2 linked regions of the Homo sapiens genome follow. The protein of the gene in region 1 interacts with the protein of each later gene in a biochemical or structural test. Each region holds a gene or a part of one and is shown on either strand. Other genes may lie near its edges. The genes, in order: PSMD14 and TXNL1.

Region 1 (3,826 bases):
TATAGTCTTGAGTACAGTTGCATTGTTTAATAGAGTTAAGCTATTTGGAAAACATTGTTTCAGTAATTACTGAACATATAAGTTATAAAACAATTGCACTAGAAAGGAGCCATTGTAGTCATTTAGTACATGAGGAAACCTGAGGCCCATAAAGTTGAGTTGCCCAGGTAATCCAGTGAGGTAATGTAGGAACTAGTACTCATAACCAGACTGCTTCATTCTTTTATATTATCATTGGAAATTTAATTAATTAATTTTGGCATAGAAAATATATATACAGTTAAAAAAATTTAAAGTACAAAGTCATTTAGCAAAAACTCTCCCTTCCTCTTTTGCCTTCTGCAACTCAGTTCTCCACTCTAGAGGGAACCACAAAACACATTTTGTTTCTTTTCAGTTATTCTATTTATATTCAAAAAGCTTCATTTTAGAACGTGATTTAAAGGATATCAGTTACCACCGTATTTTCAGTTTATCAATATAAAATAAATTAAGGCAAACAAATTTGTCTTTAGATCCAAGCACACCTTTTTAAGGAGCATGAAAACTTTTAAAAACTTATCAGGAACCCATGAATAGCTTATATATAATCCGTAAGCCGTGTGTTTTATAATGCACCTGCTTTTCCACAGCAGTGAGTGCATAGAGGTAAAATCATAAGTCAGTTGGTCTTGTGTAGTTCTACATGAACCCAAAAAGGACATGGCCGGTTGACTTATGATTTGGGAGGAAGGCACTGGGGGCACACAGCAGGTGAGTAAGTGAAATTGAAAGACTACTTGAGGATATCATTTGATTTAAACTTACCTTTGTTTTGTTATTGTTATACCTGCTGATCTTTCATGCTGTCTGTGTTAGTTTTAATGCTTTTATCTATATAATGTAATTGAAAATCAAGTAGATTGTGCCTTCAGACACCAGTTAATATTTCATTAGTACAGTTAGTCTCAAAAATATAGGGCCTAGTATCTGTGAGTCCATTAACTGGCTTCTGTATGTATTGGCTACAGCAGTTACTAGCTTTATGACCACCATGTAGGGTTGTGCAAGTAGTGAGTGCATCGCGCAAATGTGCTTGGATGAGGGAGCTTCCAGCTCAAGCTCCACTCTCTACGCCAGACTATGTCTGCTTAGAGGACTGAGCACCTTTTTCTAATTCTCTACCAGGCTGATTCACCTCCTAATGTACACGAATATGAGCACAGATTAAAGGAAGCCCTGATCATTTCTACTTTTTGATCTGTACAGTATAGCATTTTTATGCACTAAAATTTAATTCATTGCTTCTGATGATTATTGAAATGAGTAAGGATTTAATATACACTCTTGGTACTTTACAATCAGTCACTGCTCCCTATGGAATTTCATAGCTCACTTTTATAACAGACATTGGTAAAATAAGAATCTATTGTTAAAGTACTCATCTAAAATATTTTAATACTCATTGGAGTGATTTTTGCTAGCAAAGCTTAAAAATTAACATAATGCTTTGTTTCATCCTGATCCTTAAAGTAAATAGACTTAATCCAAGAATTTCCTGACATGTATTGTGGCATAGTATGTTAGAAAGAACATAGGCTATGGAATCAGAATGACCTAGGTTCAGATCCCCATCTAGCCTTTTACTAGCTAGAAACTTGGACAAATTAATATTTGTGTCTTATTTTCTTTCTTTTTTGTTGTTTTTTTTTTTTTTTTTTTTTTTAGAGATGGGGTATTGCTATGTTGTCCAGGCTGGTCTTGAACTCTTGGGCTTAAGTGATTCTCCTGCCTCAGCCTCCCAGAGTGCTGGGATTACAGGCTTGAGCCACTGAGCCCGACCCTGCATTTTATTTTCATCTGTCAAAATACAAATTGAATTGCCCTACCTTACAGTACTATGAAGATTAGAAGATGTAATGTGTAAAGCAGATACTAGCTGCTCATTAAATGTTCTCTTCTTTACCCCTTCTTCCTCTACCTCAGTGACATCTTAAGACCTACATTGTAAAAGTCTATTAGTTAGAGAAGTGGTGGTTATTTTGGTTAGTTTTTCTCTTTAGATTCCTGAGGGTTAACCCCAAAGTCCTTTTTGTTTTTATACTTGTTAAAAATATCCCTAAAGGTTTATTTCTGACTTTCATGTTTTTCTAGGCTGCCAGAGGATCCTTTAGGTCCACCAGAGTACTGTTGAACCTCATTTGAACACTTGATGTTGTCAGAGTTAGATATGGGGGCAGTTGTGAATTGATTTCAGGACATCCAGGATTATTGTTTCTTAATAAAGCCATGCTATTAGCTTAAGATTTTATTATGATTGGCCTGTTCACCTTGGAGACAGAGTGAGGTGAAAAAAATTCTGGTTGGTGAGATTGCATGTCACTGGATAAGAGCATGAGCTAGACAGACCCAGTAAAGACCAAAATCCACATAGTTAATTTGGAGACATGCATAACATAATTATTTGAATCAATCAAAACTGAATTAGGAAAAGGGGAATTCCAGATTAATGTGGGTAAAGAAACAGCTGTGTTATTGTGGCTTTTTAGGCTTTTCATTTGAAATACCCATGAGCCCCCTAGATATCATAAAGTTAGATTTAATAAATTATGAATGATTTATAAACTTAGCTTATGATAAGATCAAACCTTATCTCTGACTGAGCAAGGCTACTGAAACTGCTTAATTTGTGCTCCTCCATATCATGCTTTGAAGAATGTGTAACCCGTTCCTCTAAACCTTAGTTTTAAACTTGTAGCTAAGAAGAATACTTTAATTTCATCTTAATTTACTTGAAATAAAATGCCTTTATTAGAGGATGGTACAGGTATTATGTAAGAATATATCAACAGTTTCAAACATTTTTATTAGGTGAAAAATATTAATTTGTCCTTTTTAAAATCATTTATCTATATAGGCATTAATTCATGGACTAAACAGACATTATTACTCCATTACTATTAACTATCGGAAAAATGAACTGGAACAGAAGGTAAGTTTAAATTTTTATCTTATAGGAGGAAAAAAATCTTTTTCAAACCATTTAAACTATTACCTGGTATGTGATTTAAATTCGAATTTTTGACCTCTTTCAGTGTTTCCAAATATTATTCCATTATTGATGAATTGCAGCACAAAATAAGGGAATATTTTATTGGACTATTTAAAGACACATTTCACCTTATTGGTAGGTGCTGAAGTGGGAGAGGAAGTAGGAAATAAATCAAACGTTCCACTTTGGTTTTATGATAAGTCATAAAAATATTTCTTTTAGTTCTGTGATTTTTCTGATTAACTTATCTTCTTCAATAAAAAGGCCTTTTGTAATTAAATTAGTAATATATTGCTCTGTAAATTTGAGAGGAATAACTTAAATTGCAGTTGTGTAGTGCTTTTTGTTTGTTTGTTTGTTTGTTTTAAGAGATAGTAGGGTCTTGCTCTGTCTCCCAGACTAGAGTGCAATGGTGTGATCATGGCACACTGCAGCCTTGAACTTTTAGGCCCAAGGGATCCTCACTCTACAGCCTCCCGAGTAGCTGGGACTATAGGCATGCACCACCACACCTGGCTATTTTTTGGGTGGTGGGTGGGAGGTAGAAACGGAGTCTTGCTTTGTTGCTCAGGTTGGGCTTGAACTCCTGTGCTCAAGTGATCCTCTCACCTCAGCCTTCTAAAGTGCTGCAATCATTAGCATGAGCCATTGCACCCAGCCTAGTGCTTTTAGAAAACATACCATGTTTACTCTAAAGAAAACTAAGCTGAGTCAAAGGGAAACAGTTTTAGGGTTTTCAGATAATTTGTACTAGATTCTGATCCCATTTTATACCAGTTTTCAAGTTTGATTAGT
Region 2 (3,826 bases), on another chromosome or scaffold:
GGGCCCTAAATATGTAAAAATTTTTATCAACCTACCCCGATCTATGGATTTTGAAGAGGCAGAAAGAAGTGAACCAACTCAAGCTCTGGAACTGACAGAGGATGATATTAAAGAAGATGGCATTGTTCCACTTCGTTATGTTAAGTTTCAGAATGTTAACAGTGTAACTGTAAGTAGTATTTCGTTCATATGTATTTAATAGGTTTGTGAGTAACAATACTATTTTCAGTATCCTAGGTAAGTCTAAGTGATTCTTTAAAGTGGTATTTATTCACTCAGTTTGAAATGAGTAAAATGTTTAATGGGATAAATTTTCTTCTTTTTAATTTATGTACCCTAAAGAGGAAGGACAGATTGATTTTTGAATATTTGTGGGGTTTTGTCAGTTATTTTATATGTATATGGTAAGTTTTGCTGGAAGTTTATTCTACAACTTTATACTAAAACTGAAGATATTTGTGCTTTATTCTTTATACCTGGTATAGTAGTGATGTGTTTGTAAAATCTTATTTACTTTTCTTGAATATGGAGTTTTTAAGTGTGGTGGTCATGATCTTAGTAAAAATGACTTTTTATTTATTTATTTTTTTTTGAGATGGAGTCTCGCTGTGTTGCCCGGGCTGACTTGAACTCTTGGGCTCAAATAATCTTCCCGCCTCAGCCTCCTGAGAAGCTGGGATTACAGGCATGCACCACTGCACCTGGCTTAAAAATGACTTTTAAAAAGATAATACTACATTTTATAAGATGACCTAAGGTATATCTGAATTTTTTCTTCCTTTGAGGCAGGTTCTTGCTTTGTTGTCCAGGCTGGAGTACAGTGGCACGACCTTGGTTCAGTATAGCCCTGATCTACTGGGCTCAGGTGATTCTCCCTCAGCCTCCAGAGCAGTTGCAACCGCAGGCACGTGCCACCTCACCCAGCTAATTTTTTATTTTTGTAGAGGTGAAGTCTCTCCCTGTGTGGCCCAGGCTGGTCTCAAACTCCTGGGCTCAAGCAGTCCTCCCACCTCAGCCTCCCAAAGTGCTGGGTTTATAGGCTTCAGCCACTACACCCAGCCTTTCTGAAGATTGACTAGTGCTTGAGGTGATTTTAAGTGATGTATTTTAGATGTCATTATTAAAGTGCCACTCTCAAGAATCAGCTAATTTTTAGCAGTTATTAATTGCTTTTAAAAAATTTAGCATTGAAACCCAGCTCACACTTCTCACCTACAGTCATTTAGAGGAATGGGTAGGACAGTTAGAAAAGAATAGCAGAATACTTAGAAAAAGAAAGTAGGAACCAGCACAGAGCCACTGAGAATGTCATGCCAAACTGGTACAGCTTGTTTGTTGTGATGGAATAATTCTATTTTTGTAAATTAGAAGAATGCTAAAGTATGTGTTCATTTAAGAATGTTTTTGAGAGTTTCACAGAATATACATAGTAGTAGTATGAAGAATTATAATTGGCTGGGTGTTGTGGCTCACTCCTGTAATCCCAGCATTTTGGGAGGCCAAGATGGGCAGATTGCTCGAGCCCATGATTTTGAGACCAGCCTGGGCAACATGGTGAAACCCCATCTCTACAAAAAAATACAAGAACTAGCTGGGCATGGTGATGCGCCTGTAGTCCCAGCTACTCTGGAGGGACCACTTGAGCCTGGGAGATTGAGGCTTCAGTGAGCTGCAGTTGTGTCATTACACTCCAGTCTGGGTGACAAAAAAAAAAAAATTATAATCAAGTTGAGTTTTAAGTATTAGAAATATCCTACCCAAATGAAATCAAAGAAAATTGTTATATTAAACTTAGTATACTCATTATCAAATATTTTCTTGAAATAACATATGGCTGCCTATGAAAACAATAAAAACTGACGAATGAGTGGCATCTCAGAATGAAAGAAGTATGTTGTTTAAATCACGAGAGGCAGTTTTTAACTGGTCATGGGAGTACGCTGGTAGTCCCAGCTACTTGGGAGGCTTAGGCAGGGGCATCACTTGCACTAAAGAGTTCAGGACCAGCCTAGGTAACATAATGAGACCTTGTCTCAAAAAAGAGATAGGTGCAATATTTTAAAGTAGACAGCACCTAGAATATTGTGTTTTTAGAAATGGAGCAAATTTCAAAAATCCAATGTATGACAAAGGATCAATGAGTAAAACTTTTAGTTTTTATCGTGCTGAGGGGAGTTATTAAATATAGAGTCAAGCTTAAAAAAAAAATGAGGCACATAGTATTGTTTTAGGAGCTGATTCCCAATACTATTTTTTCTTTTAATATTCTAGGAAATAGAATGGATACAGGAATATCAGAAAGAATATCACTTTAGAGATTTTCCTCAGTGAAAAACTATGATTTTAATAAAATTTCCAATGATAGTCTGTCCCATTGTAATTGTAACTCTTAATACCCTTTCAACATTCTCTATAAAGAATTTAATTGCTGGGCGCGGTGGCTCACACCTGTAATCCCAGCACTTTGGGAGGCTGAGGCAGGAGGATTGCCTGAGCTCAGAAGTTCGAGACCACCCTGGGCAACACAGTGAAACCCTGTCTCTACTAAATTTAAAAAAAAAAAAAAAAAAAAAAAGATTAGCCGGGCGTGGCAGCATGTGCCTGTAGTCCCCCCTCCTCAGGAGGCTGAGGCAGGAGACTTGCTTGAACCTGAGAGGTGGAGGTTGCAGTGAGCTGAGATGGCACCACTGCACCCCAGCCTGGGCAACAGAGCAAGACTCCATCTCTTAAAAAAAAAAAAAAAAAAATTAGCCGGGTGTGCTGGTGGGCTACTCAGGAGGCTGAGGCTGGAGAATCGTTTGAACCTGGGAGGCGGAGGTTGCAGTGAGTCGAGATCGTGCCATTGCACTCCAGCCTGGGCAACAGAGTGAGACTCCATGTCAAAAAATACATATAGAGAGAGAATTTAATTGTGACTCTGCCATACTATCACACCAAGTTACCATGAACTTATATATATGGGTCTCTTGCCATGACATCTCTGGAGAAAGTGAGAATAGCAGGGCAAACAGCCCTATAATTAGTAGTCCTATCCTATAGGAGTACTAGTCTTAATGTTATATAATTTTGATTAATTTTTTTTTTTTTTTTGAGCCAGAGTTTTGCTCTTGTTGCCCGGGCTGGAGTGCAGTGGCACGATCTCAGCTCACTGCAACCTCCACCTCCTGGATTCAAGCGATTCTCCTGCCCCAGCCTCCCGAGTAGCTAGGATTACAGGTGCCAGTCACCACACCTGGTTAATTTTTTTGTGTTTTTAGTAGAGATGGGGTTTTGCCACGGTGGCCAGGCTGGTCTCGAACTCCTGACCTCAGGTGATCTGCCCACCTCAGCCTCCCAAAGTGCTGGGATTACAGACGTGAGCCACTGCACCCAGCCTAGATTAATTTTTACAAAGAATGGAGAATATTTATGTTATTAATTTAAGGAAATTGATTAAACTTAAAGCATGTTTGTGAAGAAGGATTGTAATTATAAATGCAAACTTTTTTTTGGTAGATATTTGTTCAGTCGAATCAAGGTGAAGAGGAAACAACAAGAATTTCATATTTTACTTTTATTGGTACTCCAGTCCAGGCAACAAATATGAATGACTTCAAACGAGTAAGTTTGCTTAAATGATACTTCGGGATAGTAAAAATATAATTTTAATGGAATAATTTCATGTATCTCAACTGTCACACTTTCTTTTAACAAAATAATTCAAAATTATATCATGTCATGAAATTTTACAAGGCTAAACTAGGATAGAAAGTTCCCCTAACTATATTTTTAGATATCCAACAAAGTAATCTTTAATAAAAAATGATGTCTTAACTGATAAAAGAGT

Evidence for each region.
Region 2: the proteins of PSMD14 (region 1) and TXNL1 form a complex in vitro, tested with the Homo sapiens proteins (one study listed by BioGRID).

The regions. Positions count from the first base shown.
Region 1 is NC_000002.12:161,388,208-161,392,033, forward strand, and holds part of PSMD14 (26S proteasome non-ATPase regulatory subunit 14), read left to right. Parts: intron 1-2,896; coding exon 2,897-2,971; intron 2,972-3,826. UniProt on the Homo sapiens protein: Component of the 26S proteasome, a multiprotein complex involved in the ATP-dependent degradation of ubiquitinated proteins.
Region 2 is NC_000018.10:56,610,767-56,614,592, reverse strand, and holds part of TXNL1 (thioredoxin-like protein 1), read left to right. Parts: coding exon 1-169; intron 170-3,495; coding exon 3,496-3,600; intron 3,601-3,826. UniProt on the Homo sapiens protein: Active thioredoxin with a redox potential of about -250 mV.